3 linked regions of the Homo sapiens genome follow. The protein of the gene in region 1 binds, or shares a complex with, the protein of each later gene. Each region holds a gene or a part of one and is shown on either strand. Other genes may lie near its edges. The genes, in order: RAD18, UBE2B and MAGEA4. A codon is read from its position in the direction of its gene.

What was found.
Region 2: the proteins of RAD18 (region 1) and UBE2B are in contact, whole or in part, in a crystal structure (PDB 2YBF), measured with the Homo sapiens proteins. Residues at the interface, in NP_064550.3 of Homo sapiens: Tyr342, Arg343, Lys344, Lys345, His346, Lys347, Glu349, Phe350, Leu353, Val354, Gln356, Ala357, Arg358, Lys359, Gly360, Tyr361; in NP_003328.1 of Homo sapiens: Pro20 (codon at 277), Val22 (codon at 271), Gly23 (codon at 268), Val24 (codon at 265), Ser25 (codon at 262), Gly26 (codon at 259), Ala27 (codon at 256), Ser29 (codon at 250), Glu30 (codon at 247), Gln35 (codon at 232), Asn37 (codon at 226), Ala38 (codon at 223), Val39 (codon at 220), Phe41 (codon at 214), Gly42, Pro43, Glu44, Glu49, Asp50, Lys54, Leu55, Val56, Leu73, Ser74, Asp151, Ser152.
Region 3: the proteins of RAD18 (region 1) and MAGEA4 are in contact, whole or in part, in a crystal structure (PDB 9BD3), measured with the Homo sapiens proteins. Residues at the interface, in NP_064550.3 of Homo sapiens: Ser348, Phe350, Gln351, Leu353, Val354, Gln356, Ala357, Arg358, Lys359, Gly360, Tyr361, Lys362, Lys363, Ile364, Ala365; in NP_001011548.1 of Homo sapiens: Ser111, Val114, Asp115, Ala118, His119, Ser158, Lys160, Met161, Ile162, Ile204, Ile205, Gly208, Thr209, Met212, Glu224, Glu225, Val228, Met229, Gly230, His237, Val239, Tyr240, His290, Val291, Val294, Asn295, Arg297, Arg299.

Annotation. Positions count from the first base shown.
Region 1 is NC_000003.12:8,960,384-8,967,564, reverse strand, and holds the start of RAD18 (E3 ubiquitin-protein ligase RAD18), read left to right. Parts: upstream 1-4,092; 5' UTR 4,093-4,179; coding exon 4,180-4,230; intron 4,231-7,181. UniProt on the Homo sapiens protein: E3 ubiquitin-protein ligase involved in postreplication repair of UV-damaged DNA. Postreplication repair functions in gap-filling of a daughter strand on replication of damaged DNA.
Region 2 is NC_000005.10:134,367,371-134,374,672, reverse strand, and holds the start of UBE2B (ubiquitin-conjugating enzyme E2 B), read right to left. Parts: upstream 3,078-7,302; coding exon 3,034-3,077; intron 291-3,033; coding exon 210-290; intron 1-209. UniProt on the Homo sapiens protein: E2 ubiquitin-conjugating enzyme that accepts ubiquitin from the ubiquitin-activating enzyme E1 and transfers it to a E3 ubiquitin-protein ligase. In vitro catalyzes 'Lys-11'-, as well as 'Lys-48'- and 'Lys-63'-linked polyubiquitination.
Region 3 is NC_000023.11:151,915,785-151,922,888, reverse strand, and holds part of MAGEA4 (melanoma-associated antigen 4), read right to left. Parts: intron 6,653-7,104; exon of another isoform or gene 6,569-6,652; intron 5,965-6,568; exon of another isoform or gene 5,887-5,964; intron 4,602-5,886; exon of another isoform or gene 4,533-4,601; intron 3,980-4,532; exon of another isoform or gene 3,852-3,979; intron 3,297-3,851; exon of another isoform or gene 3,167-3,296; intron 364-3,166; exon of another isoform or gene 258-363; intron 1-257. UniProt on the Homo sapiens protein: Regulates cell proliferation through the inhibition of cell cycle arrest at the G1 phase. Also negatively regulates p53-mediated apoptosis.

The sequences.
Region 1 (7,181 bases):
TATAAGGCATTAAGAAAGAGTGATTATGGCCAGGCGCGGTGGCTCACGCCTGTAATCCCAGCACTTTGGAAGGCTGAGGCTGGGAGTTCACGAGGTCAGGAGTTCAAGACCAGCCTAACCAATATGGTGAAACCCCGTCTCTACTAAAAATACACAAGAATTAGTTGGGCATGGTGGCACACGCCTGTTGTCCCAGTAGGGAGGCTGAAGCAGGATAATCGCTTGAACCCAGGAGACAGAGGTTGCAGTGAGCTGAGATTACACCACTGCACTCCAGCATGGGCGACACAGTTAGACTCCGTCTCAAAAAAAAAAAAAAAAAAAGAAGAAAGAGTAATTGAGAGGGAAGAAGAGAGACCACCTGGATCAAGCCATACCTGAATACCTACCTCAGGTCTTTTCAGTTACATGAGCTAACACACTGCCTTTCTTGCTTAGGCCATTTTGAGTTAGCTTTCTAATTCAGCACTTTGAACCAAAAAGTCCTAATACAGTTCCCTCCCTTAAAAGTTCTTCCTGTCTGATCTCAAAGCTCTTCCCATCTGCAGACCTTGACTTGGACTGGGCATTCCTCTGTCTAGTGTACTTGTCACCTCTGCTTGGGCATATAGTAGGTGCTCAGCAAACACTTGTTTGAAGGATCAATAGGAGGGGTTGGGACTCCTCCTAAGAAGAGGCTTTGGTGACAGACAGGTAGCTGGCCTCAGTGAGAAGCTCCCAGAGGTGATGGTGGTCTGACAGGCAGGTGGACGGGGTAATGGGCACAGTCTGTAAGTGTAAACAAGACCTAGCTGTCCCAGGGCTGGGAGGGAGAGAATAAGGCAGGGTCCATGTCTGGGAGGAGTCAAGATAGGGGCCTGGTCACAAGGACACAGCAGGGCCTGCTTCCTAGAACTGGGGTCCACAGTAAGTGTGAGGTCCACAGCACTTTTACCTCACCCGGACTGTGCCACCAAGGTTCAGTCCCTGTCACCTTCTTCTACTGTACACTTTCCACTTTGATCCCTTCTTCACCCAGCAGCTAGAATGACCTTTGGAAAATGTAAATTACACCCCTGCCTAAAGCCTCTAAGGACTTCCCCCCTGTGCTTATAGCAACATAATATTAATGACAGCTGACACTCACACAGGGCTTAGTAGTTGCCAGGCACCCTTCTAGGCATTAAACCTAGAATAACTCCTTTAATTATCCCTACAAGGCAAATACTAATATTATCCCCATTTTGCAGATGAGAAAATTGAGGCACAGAGAGGTCAACAACTTACCCAAGTTAACATGGATTAAAATCTGAACTTTTTACTAAGGCATGGAACTCTCCACTTCTGGGGTCTTTGGGTCTTTGCATGGCTGCCTCTCTCTATCAGTTGGGTCTCTGCCCATATATCACTTCCTCAGAGGGAGCCTCCCAGATCATACAATTTACAGTGTCCCCTCCTCTGTCCATTTTATCACCCTTTTTTATTGTTTTTACATCAGTTACTGTTTTATGCAATTATCTTACTCATTTTTTTACAAACTCTCTTTTTTTTTATCCTGGCTCCATGCTCACCCCCAGGCTGCCAGCTCCTGGAGAACAGAGGCCATATCTGTCTTACTCACCTCTGTATTCTAGCACCTGGTACAAGTGGAGAGTGGCTCAATAAACATTTGTTAAAATGAATGGAGGAAGGGAGAGATGGAGGCAGGGAGGAAGGAAGAAAAAAAATAAGGAAGGAAGGAAGGAAAGAAGGAACGAAGGAAGGGAGGAAGAAAGGAAGGAAGGAAAGGGAGGGAGGGAGCTCCTTTAATATCCCCTCTCCCATAACTAGAATGAGGAAGATGGGGCCTAGAGGAAGAGAGAGTGCTGGGCAGAGAGGAACAGGATGAAGAGAACCTGGAAAGGAGCTCAGGGGCCACAGGACATCCCCAGGTTAATCCAGGGCAGGCCCCACACTCAGTTGGGAGAATGCTTCTCTAATTAGGGTTGTCAGATTTGGCAAATAAAAATACAGGATGCCCAGTTAAATATTTGAATTTCTGGTTAAACAACAAATAATTGGTTAATAGGTTGTGTGCAATATTTGGGGCAGGTTTACACTAAAATGTTGTGTGCGGTTCATCTGAAATTCAGATTTACTGGGCAACTTGTATTTTATCTGGCCATCCTATTCTGGCTTCTCGCTGTGTGCTATGTGCCACAGAAGATTCCACTAAACACTAGCCTGCTTTTATTTTACATGGAACATTTTGTTTTTAGTCCTGAATAAGGAAGTACAATCTCTTTATTGATCTAACAGAAGGAGAAAGTCCATACAAACAGCAGCTTGTTAAGAGGAGAATGGCTCCCAGGGTTAGATAAACACCCAAGACAAACGCCTTTTCCTGAGCTCAAAGTGCGCTTGTTCTTGAACTTTCCTTCCTGGGCCTAGAGGTGGGCTTGATGGGATCTATCACCCTGGTGCTGCTGAAGATGGCAGGAAGAGAAATGCTCAGCCTGGGAGGAAAAGATTTATGGGAATGTGGGCTTAGTCGGTGATTCATCCATTCATTCAGCCTCACCCACCAGCTATTGGCAGACACTCAGAGATGAATGGCACCGCATCCTGTCCTGGAGGCTCTCCATAGATAGGGAAATGTATTTTGGCCCCAGGACTAACAAGTACTGCCTCCTTCCAAATCTGTCTCCATGGTTGAATGCAAAAAGTACATTCCTGTCCCTGTCTTTTCTCTCTCTCCCTTTCTCCTTACCCATTCTTTCTCTTTTTTCTCATCTCCTCTCTCTTCCTCTCTCACCTTCCCAGCCATTTGTCACCTTAAACCTAATTACCTTGTCCAACTAGTAGTGTGAAAAAAACAATTACTGGTTCACTCAGGCCACGGACCTGGTCTTAAATGCTTTTCCTTTGTCTCTCCAAGACCCCACTTCCTCCACATCCAGAACTATCCGACATTTTCCAGCTCAGCCTGGCATTCATTTGCGTTCATTTGCATGCCGTTCTATGATTGGCTGATACAAAGTGGGGGGCGGGGGTGGACACCGTAAACCTCCATTCCTCATGCATTTAATATAACATGTATGAAAAAAAGTATCTATATTTATATCTCGTTTAAGAAAAAAATTGTTCAATGATACTTGTTAAAGCACAATAAGGAAGACTTAATCAGGACAATTCAAGTAGGTATAGAGACCACTGGAACTGTGTCTTGCAATTGGTGAAAACTGGGCTCAACTCTGAATACAACATGGGCAAATGGAAATTTATAGCCAGGAAGCAGGGTGGGGAGCAGTGCATGAAAAATTACTAAGAGGAAACATCAGAGGTAACAGTAGATTCTTGCTGAAGAGGCCAGGGTGATCAGACATCAACTGGGGGATGGTGGAGGATGAGGAACACATCAGATATCAAGAGTGATCACATATCAAAGGTGGGGATTCTTGGTAACTTGATTTAGCAGGGTTTTTTGCTAAAACTGGATTTTTACAGGAAGTACACAGATTGGCCTAGGAGAAGGTTCAGGAGCCTGACTAAAGTTTGCTCAAGCAAAGAATCTTCGTCAATCTGCATAGGAAATATCTAGAAGGCTATATGCCAAAGTTAATGGTGCTTCTCTCCGAAGAAAAAGAAAAACCGTGCATTAAAATTTTAATATGAATAAAAGCAACAGCTCCCATTTAAAGCCCAGAGGTCCTGTTTGGAATCTGACTCGAAACTCTATCCACTTTTTCGGGCGTAGGCTTCTCTTGTGTAAACTGACAATGATAACATCTACCTCCCAGTGTTGTGATACGGGAGACATAAAGTAATGGATATAAAAACTTCTGTTCAGAGCAAGGACGGATAGTCACTGCGATTAGGGTGGGCGACCCGGAGGGGGGTCATGAGCCTGGACCTTGACAGATCTGGTGAGGTCTGGATTTGGTTTGATTCCTGGCTATCTTTTCTTAATATTCAACTGGCTCTACGCTTTTTAACCATTCACTTTCTTCAAGGTAAGTGCGGCAGAAGCCTGGCGCATGCGCAGTACAAGCCCTTAAGCGGCGCCCCGCCCACATACTACTACAACTTCCGGCAGGCTCCGCGCCCGCCTCTGGCGCGTCGCGGGCTGCTGACGTAATGCGGTAGCGCGGGGAATTTCGAGTGGTGTTGGAGCGCCGGAGGCTAGTGGGTGGCTGACCCCCAGCATCCTCGGGAGCGACCATGGACTCCCTGGCCGAGTCTCGGTGGCCTCCGGGCCTGGCAGTCATGAAGGTGAGTGCTTCGGGGAGTTTGGGAGCTCCCGGGTGTCTGCGGGGGGAGGTCCCTCCCTTTGAGGAGGATGTCCTCGCCTTAAGGAGAAAGGATGAGGCGCGAGCGTCGCACTGGGCCCGGGTATCCGGCTCTGCCCTGCCACTAGCCGACCGCGTGGCTCTGGGTCTCAGTTTACTCCTCTGATAAGTGACAAGGACAAGCCTGGTGAGCTGAGGTTGGCAGTCTTATGGCACCAGCTATTCTGCGATCCAATCCCAACAATAACATGGAGAAAAACAGTTATTCCAAACAATGACATCGACAGCTGTTCTTTACTGAAAGCTTACTTTGTGTCAAGCACTAAACAGTGACACCGGACATGATTTTGGGTGGACACTTTATCAGATAACATGTATGTAATCACGTAGCCAAGCAGGTAGTCTCCTTTACAGGCTCTTTCATTTCTTCTGATTATTCTCAATAAACGTAGTGCTCGTTTGTTCTGACATACTGCCCCAACTCCTCTCTAACACACCTTCACTCTTCTCTAACAATTGCTCATGTCTCTTAAACAGAGATCAGGACTCAGGCTCAGCGCTGATCTTGCATTGCGTCTGATTATTTCACTTAAATAACATTTATTTTTGTGGCCACTTTCTGTTTTGGCAAGGCATACCAGTTTCCATTTACAGTAGTGGTGGGCCCTGGATTTGCTCAAGAGCAGATGCACTTTGCTGTGCTGGATAAAGATCAGTTGCTTGGTGTTTCTTCTTGCTCTGTGATTATTTCCGTTTCTCACAGTGGCTAAGATAGCCTTCTTCTCCCTCAGTTTTGTAGACTTGGGGATTATAATACCTGTCCCACTGACTCATAAATTTGACTTTAGAATTAAGTGAAGGCTAAAGTAAGTAGAAGGCCTTGTTCTTCCTGCTGTCATCAGTGACGTCTAGAGTGCTTGGGGACTTGAGATATCTGCATGATGAGAAGCTGACATTGTGAAATGATCCAGGAAAGCTGTAGTTTTGGAGTTGTGGGCTTGGCACCAGGATGCAGTGGAGAAGAGCACAGATTTGAGTTCCAGTGGTCCTGGGTGAAATCTCCTGTCTGCCTCTTGACTGTATGACCTTCGGTTAGTAACTTAACCTCTCTGAGCCTGAATTTCTTCAACTATAAATTAGAGACAAAAATAACAGTTCATAGGATTGATTAAATAAATTAGTTGATGTATGTGGGCACAGATTCTGCTGTGTATTCACTGTGCTTACTGCAGTGCCTGACACCAAGTGGGTGCTCAAATATTATTTGCTGCTTGATTGAAAGTATCTGGAATGTAGTAAGCATTCAATGAATATATTTTATTATTATTAGCACTGTGTTAAGTGCTTCTTTCCCCTTTTAATTTGTTGTCATGAAGCTTGACTTGGATAAGGAAAGTAAAAGAGCTCTGTAACCTGTAAAGCTCCTGCTTTGTAGATTTAAGCACACTTTACATATTCCCACAATTTCAGTGTTCTTTAGAGGCGGGTTCCATGTCTTCTCTGACTTTGGTATCTCACCACAGCACTGAATGTAGAGTTTGGCACCACAGAGCGTTCAGTGAGTGTTCAACCAGAGAGTTGATTGAGCCCGTATTTTTTTGCTCACATTGGAATCATGGAATCTTAAGGTTAGAAAACCAGCCCCTTTCAGTATTTTAATCTCCTTTATAACACATCTGCCAATTTCTCACCTAATTTTTGCTTGAACTCTTCCAGGCACAAAGAACTATCAGATCCCAGAAGCAGATCTGACTGAAGTTACTTCTTTTATTGAATAGAAGTCTGACTCAGAATCCATGGTTGCTAACTTAGGATTCACAGAAAGACTTTGGAGTCTCAAGTTATTTGTAAAATTTTTGCATGTATGTTTTTCTGAGCAGAGAGTCCATAGTTGTCATCCATTTTTCAAAGGGATCTGTAACCCCAAAAACTTAAGAGTATTTTTGTAATTATTACGTTTTTCCACCCATTTTCTACTTCTCCCTTTCACTTTCTCTCTCTCTAAACTAAAGAAATTTTGGGGAGTCTGCTGACCACTCTCTATTCAGGCATCATTTTTTGTTTAGTTGGTTGAGGCGCATGTGATATGCATGTTACTGTCTTGGAGTGACATGACAAGAAATTTGAACCAGAAATGGCTCATCTGATGTAGTGTCAACTTCCACAATTGTGCTCTGCAGATCTTTCAGAATCATTCCTCCACCAGAAGAGGATGGCATAGATAAGAAAGTGTGATATAATAGACTGGTTCTGGCTTCTGGGCCTGCCTCTGCTCTTAATTGATCTTGAACATAACCCTTTAGATTTTTGTGTCTGTGACAGCTTACCATCCACAATAATGGAAGATTTTGGCATTTTATTATTTCCCTGGTTTTACTTTAACAAAAATTTACTGTTTTTGGCATATTGTAAATGTAATATGTGTACACGGTAGAAAAAAATTAAAATTCAGAATAAGATAAAGGAGAAAAATAAAACCATCCATAATTCTACCACCCAGAGAACCAGTGTTTAACATTTTACCTTATTTTCCTTTGGTTTTTGTGCATTTAAAATTTGGGATCACTGTGGAGTCAACTTCTTGGGTTTGATCCAGCCAACTTAGGAACTCTGTAGACTTTATTTTTAAAATTGGGATACTGATGCTGTGGACTTCATAAGATTGCTATGAAGATTAAACTACAGAGTTGTTATTATTATGTATTATTGGCATAGGTTTGTTTTCTGATTTTTATTTTCCTAGGGCATTAATTATTCTTTGAAAGCATGTTTTTTAATGGCTGCATAATATTTCATCATATGGACCATTAGCGACATTAGTCCTTTTTTGTTTACATTTTTAAAATTCAGGTAATAGGTTCACATGGTTCAAAATACACATAAAATAAAAAGTAAAAGTCTCCTTCTTACCATGTTCCTGGCCCTGATCATTAT
Region 2 (7,302 bases), on another chromosome or scaffold:
TGGGCTCCAGCGATCCTCCCAGGCGTTGAGCTACTACTGTGCTGGGCCAAAACTCTAATTGAAATATTTTTTTTTTCTAATTTATCTTGCAGTTTTAGTCCTTAAGATCTCTCATTCCACCTCAGTTTCTTTTCCTAGACAGTTGTTATATGTTTACTTTTCTTAAAGATTCAGCACACACCTATTATTTGTTAAACCTTTCAACTCACCCAAATATAACTGCATTCCACTGCATGATGTTGTTTTCAGATGGTGCGCCACTGACACCCACAGGTGGGTCCTCTTGTAACCTGGAAATCCAGCGTGGTAATTTAAAAAGTTGAACATTAAGGCCACTAAGGAGGCCACGTAAACACCTACAGACACTATACCATCTATTTTGAGACACAGACTAACTCCATTTCCTTGTTATTGTGAACTAAAATGAACCATATGACTTAAATATATTAACCAGGTATATATACTTATTAAATACCTCTCCAAATTATCTAAAAATTGAAAGGGCTTGAGAATCATCCCTCTTTCAATATTATCTCTTCAAGAATTGATGCATAGGAACACTTTTACACTGTTGGTGGGACTGTAAACTAGTTCAACCATTGTGGAAGACAGTATGGCGATTCCTCAGGGATCTAGAACTAGAAATACCATTTGACCCAGCCATCCCATTACTGGGTATATACCCAAAGGAATATAAATCATGCTGCTATAAAGACACATGCACACGTATGTTTATTGCGGCACTACTCACAATAGCAAAGACTTGGAACCAACCCAAATGTCCAACAATGATAGACTAGCCTAAGAAAATGTGGCACATATACACCATGGAATACTATGCAGCCATAAAAAAGGATGAGTTCATGTCCTTTGTAGGGACATGGATGAAGCTGGAAACCATCATTCTCAGCAAACTACCGCAAGGACAAAAAACCAAACACCACGTGTTCTCACTCATAGGTGGGAATTGAACAATGAGAACACTTGGACACAGGAAAGGGAACATCACACACAGGGGCCTGTTGTGGGGCGGGAGGAGAAAGGAGGGATACCATTAGGAGATATACCTAATGCAAGTGACGAGTTAATGGGTGCAGCACACCAACATGGCACATGTGTATACATATGTAACAAACCTGCACGTTGTGCACATGTACCCTAGAACTTAAAGTATAATTAAAATATATTTAAAAAAAAAGAATTGATGTATATAGACTGTCCTCTTATACCAAAAAAAGTTTAAAACCTCAAAAGCAAGTAATATTTTTACAGAACCATTGATTTTGCTGCTCTAAACATGCAAAGACTGTGTATCCTAACCAGGCTACTTCTGCAAAATGGCTACAAGAAAAAAAAAAAAAGCAAACCTCAGTGTAAACACAAAATGACTGAAAACACATTAAATTTAACTAGGAAACTAGTATTAGGCAGCAGATTTACTCTATTCCTTTTGCTTCAAACAGCAATGGCTTTAAAAAGTAATTAGTAGGTTTTCTGCCAGTCCCTATTTTAAAGGCTCTGCACTAACACCAAATCCACCTCTCAGATCAGGAGACTCAACACAAGGCTTTCCAACATTCGTCATAGTCAAATTCTTGTAACCTGCAGATCTCTGGAAACTACAAAAGGTGCCATGCATTCAACTCAGAATTAAGCAGAGCATTACAGTAAGGAGCCAGGGCGACAATGACATGAACTAGTTTACTATCTGAATTTGTCATGAGTGCTAATCAAATACGCTGATTTCAAGCTTTAGAAAGATGACTTTTGCACCAAAAAGGGCATCTCCTTTCAGAGACTGTAACCTCAATTAAAAATGCTACATTATATACACACACAAATACATATGCAGTTGTTTTTCATGGGGCATCATAATTTGCAACTAGTCCACATTAAAAAAATGGTTTTTAGTCAATCTCAAGCAAATTAGGCCACCACGAACAGAAGCCTTAGAAGAACTGCACTGCTTGACGCCTACCTTTAAATGGCTAAGAGAAGCTACGAATGAATTAAATAAGTTGGCCAAATCCAAGTGCCTCACATAGGCTTTATAATAGCTGAGAGGTGACTTCCTGAGCGACAAATCTAAGTTTTTATGCTAGATATTTTGTTCAATTAGGGCAGGTGTCCCCAGAAAAAATGTTAAGAAAAATGTGCAGAGTATCAAAATGATGTTTTCTCACTTATTTTTTCTATGTCTCTAAGTATCCAATAAAAGGTAAACAACGGAATAATCATTTTCTATCTCACAACCCCAATACCTCCTAACAAAACCCTATTTTATTTACCAAAGGAGGCCCAGGGAGTATCAGATTAGCGCCAGTCTAAGGGAAGGCATTTTTCCAGACTCGGGAGGCTATAGATAGGGGCTTTCTTCACCAGCCAGAGCTGAGTTCCAGAAAGCACTGGCAGCCGGGGTGGCCAGCTCTAAGGTCCCAGATCTCTAAGTCAGTTCCCAAGGTCCTTTCAGGCGGGCGGGGACAGAGTCGGGTTTCGGGGGATGGGTTAACCTCCGGGCCTCACGCACTGGACCCCACCCTCAGGGCACAAATGGAAAGGATTGGCAGGAGTCGGGAGAGGGGTTCGCCCCAACACGGCTCCTCGGAGAAGACGGCGGGGCCGTGAAACAAAGCTGACTGGTGCTGCCGGAGAGGAACAAGCTCCCGCAGGAGCTCACTTTGAGGGGACAAGAAGGGGGCGCCGCAGGGTGCAGGGGCGGGCGGATAATGTCTGATCGCCTGGGCGAGACGCCGGGCAGCTGGCCGAAATGGGCAGCAGGGAACCCTAGACCAGTCGATCGACACCGTTTTACTTTTTGTGGGGAGGGGAAGCAGTATCAAAATTTCTTCGGGCGCCAGAACGAGCGGCAAAGCTTATGGGAGTAGGGCCGAGGCTAGGACCCGGCTTCCGCCAGTCCCGCTGGGCCCACAGCCGGCCCTCTGAGGGTCACAAAGGGGAAGGTGTCTGGGATCCACGCCCTGCAGCCCCGCAGCTTTGAGGGGCCGTCATCTAGGCGAAGGTGAAGGCCCTTACCGCTTGAAATCCCGCATGAGCCTCCTCCGGGCCGGGGTCGACATGCTCCGCAGCTGCCCCGCGGTCAGTCTGAAAAAAAAAAAGTCCCGCGCAGCCCCCCCACCCCCCGGCGCGGCGGCCGAATCACTGTGGATCGCCGCCGCCGCCGCCGCCGCCGCCGCCGCCGAGACTGACAAACAACCCTGCAATGACGTCTCCCTCCGCCGCCTCCGGATCCCTCCGCCCTCCGCCGCTACCACAGTGTGAGTGCTGGGGGAGGAGGGGGCGGGACGCGGGAGCGCGCCTTCCCCGAGCCCTTCAGCGGGGCGCGGTTCCCCCTGGGCTTCCTGAAGTAATAGACAAATTTGTGTTCTCTGTGTTCAGACTAGAGGTTGTGGATTCAAAGACCACGAAACAGAAACACTATCCCGTCTCCCTCCCCGTCACTAGTTTAGGCTCGGCGGGGTGGAGAAAGAGGGACGCATCCGGGCCAGAGATTTCAGGGAAAGGAGGTGGGATGATGTAAGATCACGTGACTGCCCGCGGCCTTGTCAACAATCCACCCCTGAGTGGGAGGGGGAGAAGTATCTAGAACCACGTGTCCCTATGACGCGTTTAGAACGGGTCACGTGAGCGCCTCGCCTGGATGTGAGTTTCAGCCAGGTCTGTGAAGCGGGTTTAAGAGGGTGAGGGCGGGATAAACCTTTATTAGTTGTTTTCTGTTTATCACAGGTATAGAGACAACATTACCCAAGAGGTCATGGCAGAATCAACAGCTTGTTTTGTTTTCTTTAAACCGGGACCAAAAATAATTCCCCTCTGGTTGGTTCAGTGGCTTATTAACTCTGGTACTTGGGGCAAGAAGAGTGAGAGGATCGCACGATCTTCTAAGGCAGCCTTGAATACTGAGGCCCACACAACAATCTCCTGAAATGGTTCCTTGAAGCTACCAGATAGTCTTTCTGCTTTGCAGTGGGGTTTCTAGTATTGGAAATTCTGGGCAAATATTAAAGGATGGTGTATTATGCAGTTTTTCCTTTCTGGGTCTGCTTTCAATTGAAGATATGTGTCAGAGTCCGGGGACTTGCCTATGGTGGGGGAGTACCATTGTATTTTTAAGGAATGTGGGGGTGCAGTCTTCCAAGCATATCAATGAGTGGTTGGTTGTCAAAGAAACCTACAAATATGATTCATATTCTGGGGGAGAGCTCCGGCAGACATGAGTGAGGGTTATATATCTAGCCTGAGATAACTTCAGGTTTTCTACACTAGCAAGAAAGGTGCAAATGGGCCAGAAGGGCCCCCCACCACCAGGGGGTTCAGAGGTGTTGACCTCCCAAAGACCTTGAATATTTTCTGTGGTCACCGTCCTTCCCTCTATTGCTTCCAATTCCTACCTTCAGGACTTTGTTATACTAAGGACTCTGAGTACTTTTGTATCCATTTGGGGAACTGTTCAGTTCAACAGGTAAAGGGAGGGTGGAATGAGGACCTTAACATTGCCTCAGCCTTGCCCCTGATTCCATGGAAGCAGAGTTAACTTTTCTGACTTTCCTTGTACCTCTTTCTTCAAACCCTGAATTCCCTCTCTGCTTCCAGTGACTGCCTTGGTGATCAGGTTAGCCAGGCCTAACTCTTGATAGGTCCTGTTAGACATTCGCAATGTGTTTTTTAAGTTAAAAGCTGAATATTCTTAATTTTTTTGCCTTTCTGCCATTGCAGTCCTAACCCTTCCAATAGCAAAGGAGGAAGACACACAGGTAGGGTTACATGGAGAAAAATGGTAAAGAGAAACTATATCTTAAAAATATCCCTCATGAGCTGGGGCATTAGCTCATGCCTGTAATCCTAATACTTTGGGAGGCCAGGAGTTGAAGACCAGCCTGGGCAACATAGGAGATCCTGTCTCTACAAAAAGTAAAATTAGCCAGGCATGGTGGCGCACACCAATAGTCCCAGCAACTCAGGAGGCTGAGGCAGAAGAATCGCTTGAGACGAGGAAGTTGAAGCTGCAGTGAGCCATCATCATGCCACTGAGACCCTGCCTCAAAAAAATCCCGCAACAACCAAAAAAACCCTTGTAATTTATCAGTCAAGGCAGTCACTGAAAGCAGAGACAGAATTCAGGGTTTGAAGAAAGGGAGGTACAAGGAAAGTGGGAAAAGTTAACCCTTTCTGGTTCCATGGAACTATGGGCAAGATTAGGGCAATGCTGAGGTCCTCCTCCTACCCCCTCTTTCCCTGTTGAGCTGACGAATGGATACAAAAGTGCTCAGAGTCCTCCTGACCCACCAACGAAGTCCTGAAGATGGGAACTGGAGGCAATAGAGGTAAGGAATTCAGAGACTACAGGGATTTATAATTGTTTTGGAAACAGTTTATTATTTTCCAAAATGATATAACACTTTTAACTGATTCAGTGAATGTGCATCATAAAGTCTTACAGCTGTGTATTAGCAAGAATCACTGGCTGTCCTTGTTAACCAGGCCTGCCATAACCTACTTGTAGAAGGAATAATTTTAAAGCTATTAACTGTATGCTGTTATCAGTTCTGTAGCTCTGGATTATGAGTTCATTGAGGGCAGGGACTCAGTTTGGTTCATCTTTGTCCTGGGCAAATTTTTTTATTTTTTGAGACAGAGTTTTGCTCTGTCACCCAGGTTGGAGTGCAGTGGTGTGAACAGGGCTCACTGCAGCCTTGACCTTCTGGGCTCCAGTAATTCTCCTTCAGACGCCCAAGTAGCTGGGACCACAGGTGTGCACCACCATGCCCGGCTAATTTTTTGTAGAGATGGAGTTTTGCCCTCTTGCCCAGGCTGGTCTGGAACTCCTGGGCTCAAGTGATCTGCCCACCTTGGCCTCCCTGGGATTACAGGTGTGAGCCACTGTGCGCAGCCTCCTTGCAAATATTTAGCCCACAACAAATAATATGCTTACACCAAGTTTGAGCCCACTATAAGATTTACTATGACATTCTTATTTATAGAAGGTATTTTATATTGTGGTTGAATAACTTTCTTTTTTTTTTTTTTTTTTTTTTTGAGATGGAGTCTCGCTCTGCCACCCAGGCTGGAATGTAGTGGTGCGATCTCCGCTCACTGCAAGCTCCGCCTCCCGGATTCACGCCATTCTCCTGCCTCCGCCTCCCGAGTAGCTGGGACTACAGGCGCCCGCCACCACGCCCAGCTAATTTTTTCTATTTTTTAGTAGAAATGGGGTTTCACCGTGTTAGCCAGGATGGTCTCGATCTCCTGACCTCGTGATCCGCCCGCCTGGGCCTCCCAAAGTGCTGGGATTACAGGCGTTAGCCACTGCGCCCGTCTGAATAACCTTCAAAGAAAAGACAATTCTGAATATTTTAGGTGATCAATGAAAACGATGACCACTTCTCCTTTCTCTCAATATAAACCCTAGCAGCATAGAAAAAACTTGAGAAGCTTCAAAAATACTAATTTATTTACGCTATCCCAATTAAATCAGGTGCTCTGGCATTGGGGCAGGGGTGTGGAGGTGGGGGTTGGGATGCTTTCTAAAAGCTCTCCAGGTGTGATTTAAATATGCATGCTGGGTGGGACCCACCAGACTAGATTTATTAAATAATGCCTTTCCTCTTATTTAGCGGAAGCATAGCGAGATTTCGCTTTTTTACATTTAACTCATTTTATAGAAGAAAGCAAAGAAAGCCCTATTCAATAAAGAAAGCACTCCCTAGGCACTTGGTCTAGTGATATGGTGGTTATTCATTAGGGACTGTCATTCCAGTTGAACTCTATGTCTACTTAAGCAGTTAGACACTGGCCTCTTTATTTCCGTGCTCTTGTACATCATTTCGTATATGGTGGAACTCTTCGAATTACTTGCTTTCCTAGAGTTTGACATGTGGTGAGGGAGGTTTTTTTTCTTTAAAAAAGATTACTAGCAGTTGGAAAAAATTAAAAGGCATATGGCAAGTGTTCAAGAAAAGTTTTTGATTTAAGAACCATCTTGACCGGGGGCGGTGGCTTACGCCTGTAATCCCAGCACTTTGGGAGGCCGAGGCAGGCGGATCACCTGATGTTGGGAGTTCGAGACCAGCCTGGCCAACATGGTAGAAACCCCGTCTCTACTAAAAATACAAAATTATCCGGGCGTGGTGGCACACGCCTGTAATCCCAGCTACTCGGGAGGCTGAGGCAGGAAAATCACTTAAACCTGGAAGGAGGAGGTTGCAGTGAGCCAAGATCAGCGACACTGCAGTCCAGCCTGGGCGACAGAGCTAGACTATCTCAAAAAAAAAAAAAAAAAAAAAA
Region 3 (7,104 bases), on another chromosome or scaffold:
TGGATGCGGAGCCTGCTTGGTCCTCACCTCAACTCCTGGCAGAGCCTGGGACCCTCCCTCTACTGACCTGGGTGCAGCCCCCTCAGACCAAGGCCTCCCACTCCGTGACACCAGTGATCCCAGGATAAGAGAGGGACCTCAGCAGAAAGCCAAGCCCATGCTCTCTGGGGTGACAACAGGAGCAGGGCTGATTTCTGTGGGGTCATCATCTGCGTTCTGGCCCTGTGGTACCCTCAATCCTCCCTCACATTCCTCACCAGGACTCTTGGCAGATCCTGGGACCACTGTGTCTGTAGACCAGATGGGGGTCCCTGTGGTGACCTGAGTCACCCTCTGAGAACAAGGTCCTCACCTCACTGAGATCTGGAATCAGAAATGAGAAGGAGCCACATCCTGTCACCCCTGTGTGGGGTGCCCAGGGCTGACCCCTTTGGTTCTGGGGTGAGGGTTCTGATGGCCTCCTGTGGGGTACTCATGTTTGCTCCTGACAGGGCCTGCCCTTCCTCAACCCCCAACCCCCTGAGATGAGCAAACATTGCCCCTTTACTCCAAAACCTCATCTCCCTGAAGGTTCCCCAACTTCCTGCCTGTGGAACAAGTGAAATTGGCACATAGGGCCATCCCTCCTCTGGTCCCCCCTGAGCTAAGAACAGGGGACAGCCAGACTCTGTGGGGTCCCGTCTTTCTGAGCCACAGGTATCCCCATTCCTCGTGAAGTGTGGCACACCTTGGGTCCTGTAGATCCTGGGACTCCTCCCTCTGCGGACCTGAAGTACCACCCCTCAGACCATAGCCCTCTCCTCTCTGTGACCTCGAAGATGCAGGAAGTATGAGCTACAGGTGGCTACCTTGCCCAGGACCTCCCAGGGCCCAGGTCTCCACTGATCTGGAATGCAAGGCCCCCTGAATCCTCCCTCGTCTTCCTTTCCTTGATCCTGGAAGGGCTTGGAACCCACCCCTCTGCTGACCTGAGTTGCCATCCCTTGGATTCCTGAGGCTAAAAGAGGAGGCACCTCATTCTCAGACGGGGTGGGGTGGGCTCCCTGCCTTGGGGTGCTGGGTCTCCTGAGGCCTTCCTCATCTCCCAGGAGGGCCAGGGTCCTCCCTCTGCTACCCTGAGGCTCTGCTCATGATACCAAACCCTCTCCCTCCTTCAGCCCTCGATGTGGATGTCAAGATCCGAGTGCCTGACCATTCCCAGGTCTTCCCGGGGTTGACTGCAGGGGAAAAAATGGATTCTGCAAAACGGAGTTGGGGATGGGGCTGGGCATGTTGGAATGCGGATGGGGTGGGGGTGTAGCGCCCTCAGTTCCCTCTCAAGGTCCTGACCCCGATGCCAGGCAGAGCCTGGGCCCTGCCTTGGGCACACCAAGCTCTTGACTCTAGAGTCCCCTGTAGCTTTAGTGGCAGTGGGAGCTGGGATGGCCTAGCCTGAGAAGTCTTCCCCCGGGTGGTCCAGGACTGGCAGCAGGAGCTGCGCTGGATTATTTGGGTTCCTCTATCTTGGGTGGGGGCCTCCTCAGTCCTTCCTCAGAGTCTCACCTTGCCTCGCCACAGAGCTTGGGCCCGCTCCCCTCAGCCGATCTCAACTGGCCCCTCAGGACTATGCCCTTGATTCTCTGACCCCCAAAAAACATCCCAGCACCAAGCCTGGGGTTTCCCTGGATTGATAGCAGAAGGGGAACTGGATTCTGCCTGGTGAGGGTGGAGGGCAAGGAATGGGAAATGGAGCAGCGAAATGGCAGCGGATTTGTGGGAGTGGGGGTTAGACTAGGATCTTGGGGGACCTCAGTTCCCTCTCAGGTTTCTGACTTTGATTCCTGGCAGGGCCTGGGCCATGCCCTCTCCTAACCAGCCCTTCCCTGATCACACCAACCTCTGACTCCAGAGTCCCCTGTGGCTTAAACAAACGCGTTGCGAAGGGGGCGGAGGTGGGGAGCAGCCCAGTCTGAGAAGTCAGCCTCCGCGGGGTAGTCCAGGGCTGGGACCCTCTATCAGGGATAGGGGTTTCCTGAATCCTCCCTCAGAGTCTCACTTTGCCTCTTCACAAAGCCTGGGCCACCTTCCCTCTGCCGATCTCAAGCCACCCTTCAGACCCAGAAACTCACTTCTCTCTAACCCTCAATTCACAAGTCAGTGGCATCACATCCGGCCACCCAGGGCTTGCCTGGATTGAAAGCAGGGGTGGAACCGGATGCTGCGCTGATGGGGATGAAGGTAGGGGTGGGGGAGGGGGGTATGAGGCTGGTTGGGGGGTTGGGGAGGATAGGGGCACAGGTGGGGAATGGGGGTACAGATGGGGTAGGGAGTGCAGATGGGAAAGGGGTAGGGGATAGGAATGGGGGTGGGGGACACTCAGCCCTCTCCTAGGGTCCTGACGTTGATGCCTGGCAGAGCCTACCCCCACCAGTCCTGCACTGATCACACCAAGCTCTGACTCCATAGTCCCCTGCGGCTTCAGCGGCAGTGGGGTGGTGGGCGTCCCAGACTCAGAAGTCCGCCCACGGGTGGCCCAGGACTGGAAGCAGGAGGGGTGCCGGATTATTTGGGGTCGTCTATCTGGGGTGGAGAGGGCCTCCCGACTTCTCCCTCAGCTTCTCACTATGCCACCTCACAGAGCCTGGACCGGCTTCCCTCTGCCAATCCCAAGCTGCCTGTCAGACTGAGAAGCTAGCGTCTCTCTAACCCCCAATGCACAAGTCACTGGCATCACATCCAGGAACCTGGAGCTTCCCTGGGTTGAAAGCAGAAACGGAATGCGATTCAACCTGGATGGGGATAGTGGTGTTGGGGTGGGGGATGAGGACATAAGGGTAGTGGGGGTTTGGGGAGGATAGGGGTGCTGGTGGGGGATAGGGTGTAGATGGGGTTGGGAGTGTGGATGGGAATGGGAAGGGGGATGGGAATGGGGGTGGGGGACCCTCGGCCCTCTCTTACAGTCCTGAGGTTGATGCCTGGCAGAGCCTGCCCTCACCAGTCTTGCACTGATCACCCCAAGCTCTGACTGCAGAGTCCCGTGCGACTTCAGAGGCAGTGGGGTGGTGGGCGCCCCAGACTCAGAAGTCCCCCCACGAGTGGCCCAGGGCTGGGAGCATGAGTGGTTCGGGATTATTTGGGATTGTCTATCTGCGGTGGGGGCCTCCTGAGTCCTCCCTCAGCGTCTCACCTTGACTCCTCACAGGGCCTGGCCCGCTTCCCTCCACCAGTCCCAAGCTGCTGGTCAGACAGAGCAGCTCGCTTTTCTCTAACCCCCAATGCGCAAGTCAGTGGCATCACATTCCGGCACCTGCGGCTTTCTTGGGTTGAAAGCGGAAGCAGAACCCGATTCAGCGTGGATGGGGGTGGGAGGAGTGAGGTCGGTGGAGGGGGCGCGTTTTGGGGGTGGGTTGAAAGCGGAAGCAGAACCTGATTCAGTGTGGATGGGGGTGGGAGAGGTGAGGTTGGTGGAGGGGCCCGGGTTTTGGGGTGGGAGATGGTGGTGTGAGAGAGGTGCGGGGTTGAGGAGGATAGGAGCCTGGTGGGGGATGGGGGCGCGGATGGGTTTGGGAGTGCAAATAGTAATGGGAAAGGGGAGGGGGTGGGGGATGGGAATGGGGGTGGGGTACGCTTAGCCCTCTCTTAGGGTCCTGAGGTTGATGCCTCGTAGAGCCTGCCCTCACTAGTCTTACACTAACCACCCCAAGCTCGGACTCCAGAGTCCCATGTGACTTCAGACGCAGTGGGGTGGAGGGCGCCCCAGACTCAGAAGTCAGCCCACGGGTGGCCCACGGCTGGTAGCAGGAGTGGTGCGGGATTATTTGGGGTCGTCTATCTGGGGTGGGGGCCTCCTGAGTCCTCCCTCAGCGTCTCACCTTGACTCCTCACAGGGCCTGGCCCGCTTCCCTCCACCAATCCCAAGCGGCTGGTCACAGAGCAGCTCGCTTCTCTCTAACCCCGAATGCGCAAGTCAGTGGCATCACATCCGGGCCCCTGGGGCTTTCTTGGGTTGAAAGAGAAACCAGAAATCAGATTCAGCGTGGATGGGGGTGGGAAGGGTGAGGTCGGTGGAGGGGGCGGGTTTTTGGGGGTGGGTTGAAAGCGGAAGCGGAACGTGATTCAGTGTGGATGGGGGTGGGAGGGGTGAGGTTGGTACAAGGGCCCGGGTTGTTGGGGTGGGAGATGGCGGTATGAGAGAGGTGGGGGGTTGAAGAGGAGAGGAGTGCTGGTGGGGGATGGGGCGTGGATGGTTTGGGAGTGCAAATGGTAATGGGAAAGGGGACGTGGTGGGGGATGGGAATAGGGGTGGGGTACGCTTAGCCCTCTCTTAGGGTCCTGAGATTGATGCCCGGCAGAGCCTGGCCTCACTAGTCTTACACTAAACACCCCAAGCTCTGACTCCAGAGTCCCATGCGACTTCAGAGGCAGTGGGGTGGTGGGCGCCCCAAGCTCAGAAGTCCGCCCACAGGTGGCCCACGGCAGGTAGGAGTGGTGCGGGATTATTTGGGGTCGTCTATCTGGGGTGGTGGCCTCCTGAGTCCTCCTCAGCGTCTCACCTTGACTCCTCACAGGGCCTGGCCTGCTTCCTTCCACCAATCCCAAGCTGCTGGTCAGACAGCAGCTCGCTTCTCTCTAACCCCCAATGCGCAAGTCAGTGGCATCACATCCGGGCCCCTGAGGCTTTCTTGGGTTGAAAGCGGAAGCGGAAACACGATTCAGCGTGGATGGGGGTGGGGGGGAGGTCGGTGGAGGGGGCGGGTTTTTGGGAGTGGGTTGAAAGCGGAAGCGGAACCCGATTCAGCGTGGATGGGGGTGGGAGGGGTGAGGTTGGTGGAGGGGCCCCGGTTTTTGGGGTGGCAGATGGCGGTATGACAGAGGTGGGGGGTCGAGGAGGAGTGCTGGTGGGGGATGGGGGCGGGGATGGGTTTAGGAGTGCAAATGGTAATGGGAAAGGGGACGTGGTGGGGGATGGGAATAGGGGTGGGGTACGCTTAGCCCTCTCTTAGGGTCCTGAGATTGATGCCCGGCAGAGCCTGGCCTCACTAGTCTTACACTAAACACCCCAAGCTCTGACTCCAGAGTCCCCTGCGACTTCAGAGGCAGTGGGGTGGTGGGCGCCCCAAGCTCAGAAGTCCGCCCACAGGTGGCCCACGGCTGGTAGGAGTGGTGCGGGATTATTTGGGGTCTTCTATCTGGGGTGGTGGCCTCCTGAGTCCTCCTCAGCGTCTCACCTTGACTCCTCACAGGGCCTGGCCTGCTTCCTTCCACCAATCCCAAGCTGCTGGTCAGACAGCAGCTCGCTTCTCTCTAACCCCCAATGCGCAAGTCAGTGGCATCACATCCGGGCCCCTGAGGCTTTCTTGGGTTGAAAGCGGAAGCGGAAACACGATTCAGCGTGGATGGGGGTGGGGGGGAGGTCGGTGGAGGGGGCGGGTTTTTGGGAGTGGGTTGAAAGCGGAAGCGGAACCCGATTCAGCGTGGATGGGGGTGGGAGGGGTGAGGTTGGTGGAGGGGCCCCGGTTTTTGGGGTGGCAGATGGCGGTATGACAGAGGTGGGGGGTCGAGGAGGAGTGCTGGTGGGGGATGGGGGCGCGGATGGGTTTAGGAGTGCAAATGGTAATGGGAAAGGGGACGTGATGGGGGATGGGAATAGGGGTGGGGTACGCTTAGCCCTCTCTTACGGTCCTGAGATTGATGCCTGGCAGAGCCTGGCCTCACTAGTCTTACACTAAACACCCTAAGCTCTGACTCCAGAGTCCTCTGCGACTTCAGAGGCAGTGGGGTGGTGGGCGCCCCAGACTCAGAAGTCCGCCCACAGGTGGCCCACGGCTGGTAGCAGGAGTGGTGCGGGATTATTTGGGGTCGTCTATCTGGGGTGGGGGCCTCCTGAGTCCTCCCTCAGCATCTCACCTTGACTCCTCACAGGGCCTGGCCCGCTTCCCTCCGCCAATCCCAAGCGGCTGGTCAGAGCAGCTCGCTTCTCTCTAACCCCCAATGCGCAAGTCAGTGGCATCACATCCGGGCACCTGGGACTTTCTTGGGTTGAAAGCGGAAGCGGAAACCCGATTCAGCGTGGAAGGGGGTGGGAGGGGTGAGGTCGGTGGAGGGGGCGGGTTTTTGGGGGTGGGTTGAAAGCGGAAGCGCAACCCAATTCAGCATCCATGGGGGTGGGAGGGGTGAGGTTGGTGGAGGGGCCCCAGTTTTTGGGGTGGGAGATGGCGGTGTGAGAGAGGTGCGGGGTTGAGGATAGGAGTGCTGGTGGGGGATAGGGGCGCGGATGGGTTTGGGAGTGCAAATAGTAATGGGAAAGGGGAGGCGGTGGGGGATAGAAATAGGGGTGGGGTACGCTTGGCCCTCTCTTAGGGTCCTGAGGTTGATGCCTCGTAGAGCCTGCCCTCACTAGTCTTACACTAACCACCCCAAGCTCGGACTCCAGAGTCCCATGCGACTTCAGACGCAGTGGGGTGGAGGGCGCCCCAGACTCAGAAGTCCGCCCACGGGTGGCCCACGGCTGGTAGCAGGAGTGGTGCGGGATTATTTGGGGTCGTCTATCTGGGGTGGGGGCCTCCTGAGTCCTCCCTCAGCGTCTCACCTTGACTCCTCACAGGGCCTGGCCCGCTTCCCTCCGCCAATCCCAAGCTGCTGGTCAGACAGAGCAGCTCGCTTCTCTCTAACCCCCAATGCGCAAGTCAGTGGCATCACATCCGGGCCCCTGGGGCTTTCTTGGGTTGAAAGAGGAAGCGGAAATCAGATTCAGCGTGGATGGGGGTGGGAGGGGTGAGGTCGATGGAGGGGGCGGGTTTTTGGGGGTGGGTTGAAAGCGGAAGCGGAACGTGATTCAGTGTGGATGGGGGTGGGAGGGGTGAGGTTGGTACAAGGGCCCGGGTTGTTGGGGTGGGAGATGGCGATATGAGAGAGGTGGGGGGTTGAAGAGGAGAGGAGTGCTGGTGGGGGATGGGGCGTGGATGGTTTGGGAGTGCAAATGGTAATGGGAAAGGGGACGTGGTGGGGGATGGGAATAGGGGTGGGGTACGCTTAGCCCTCTCTTAGGGTCCTGAGATTGATGCCCGGCAGAGCCTGGCCTCACTAGTCTTACACTAAACACCCCAAGCTCTGACTCCAGAGTCC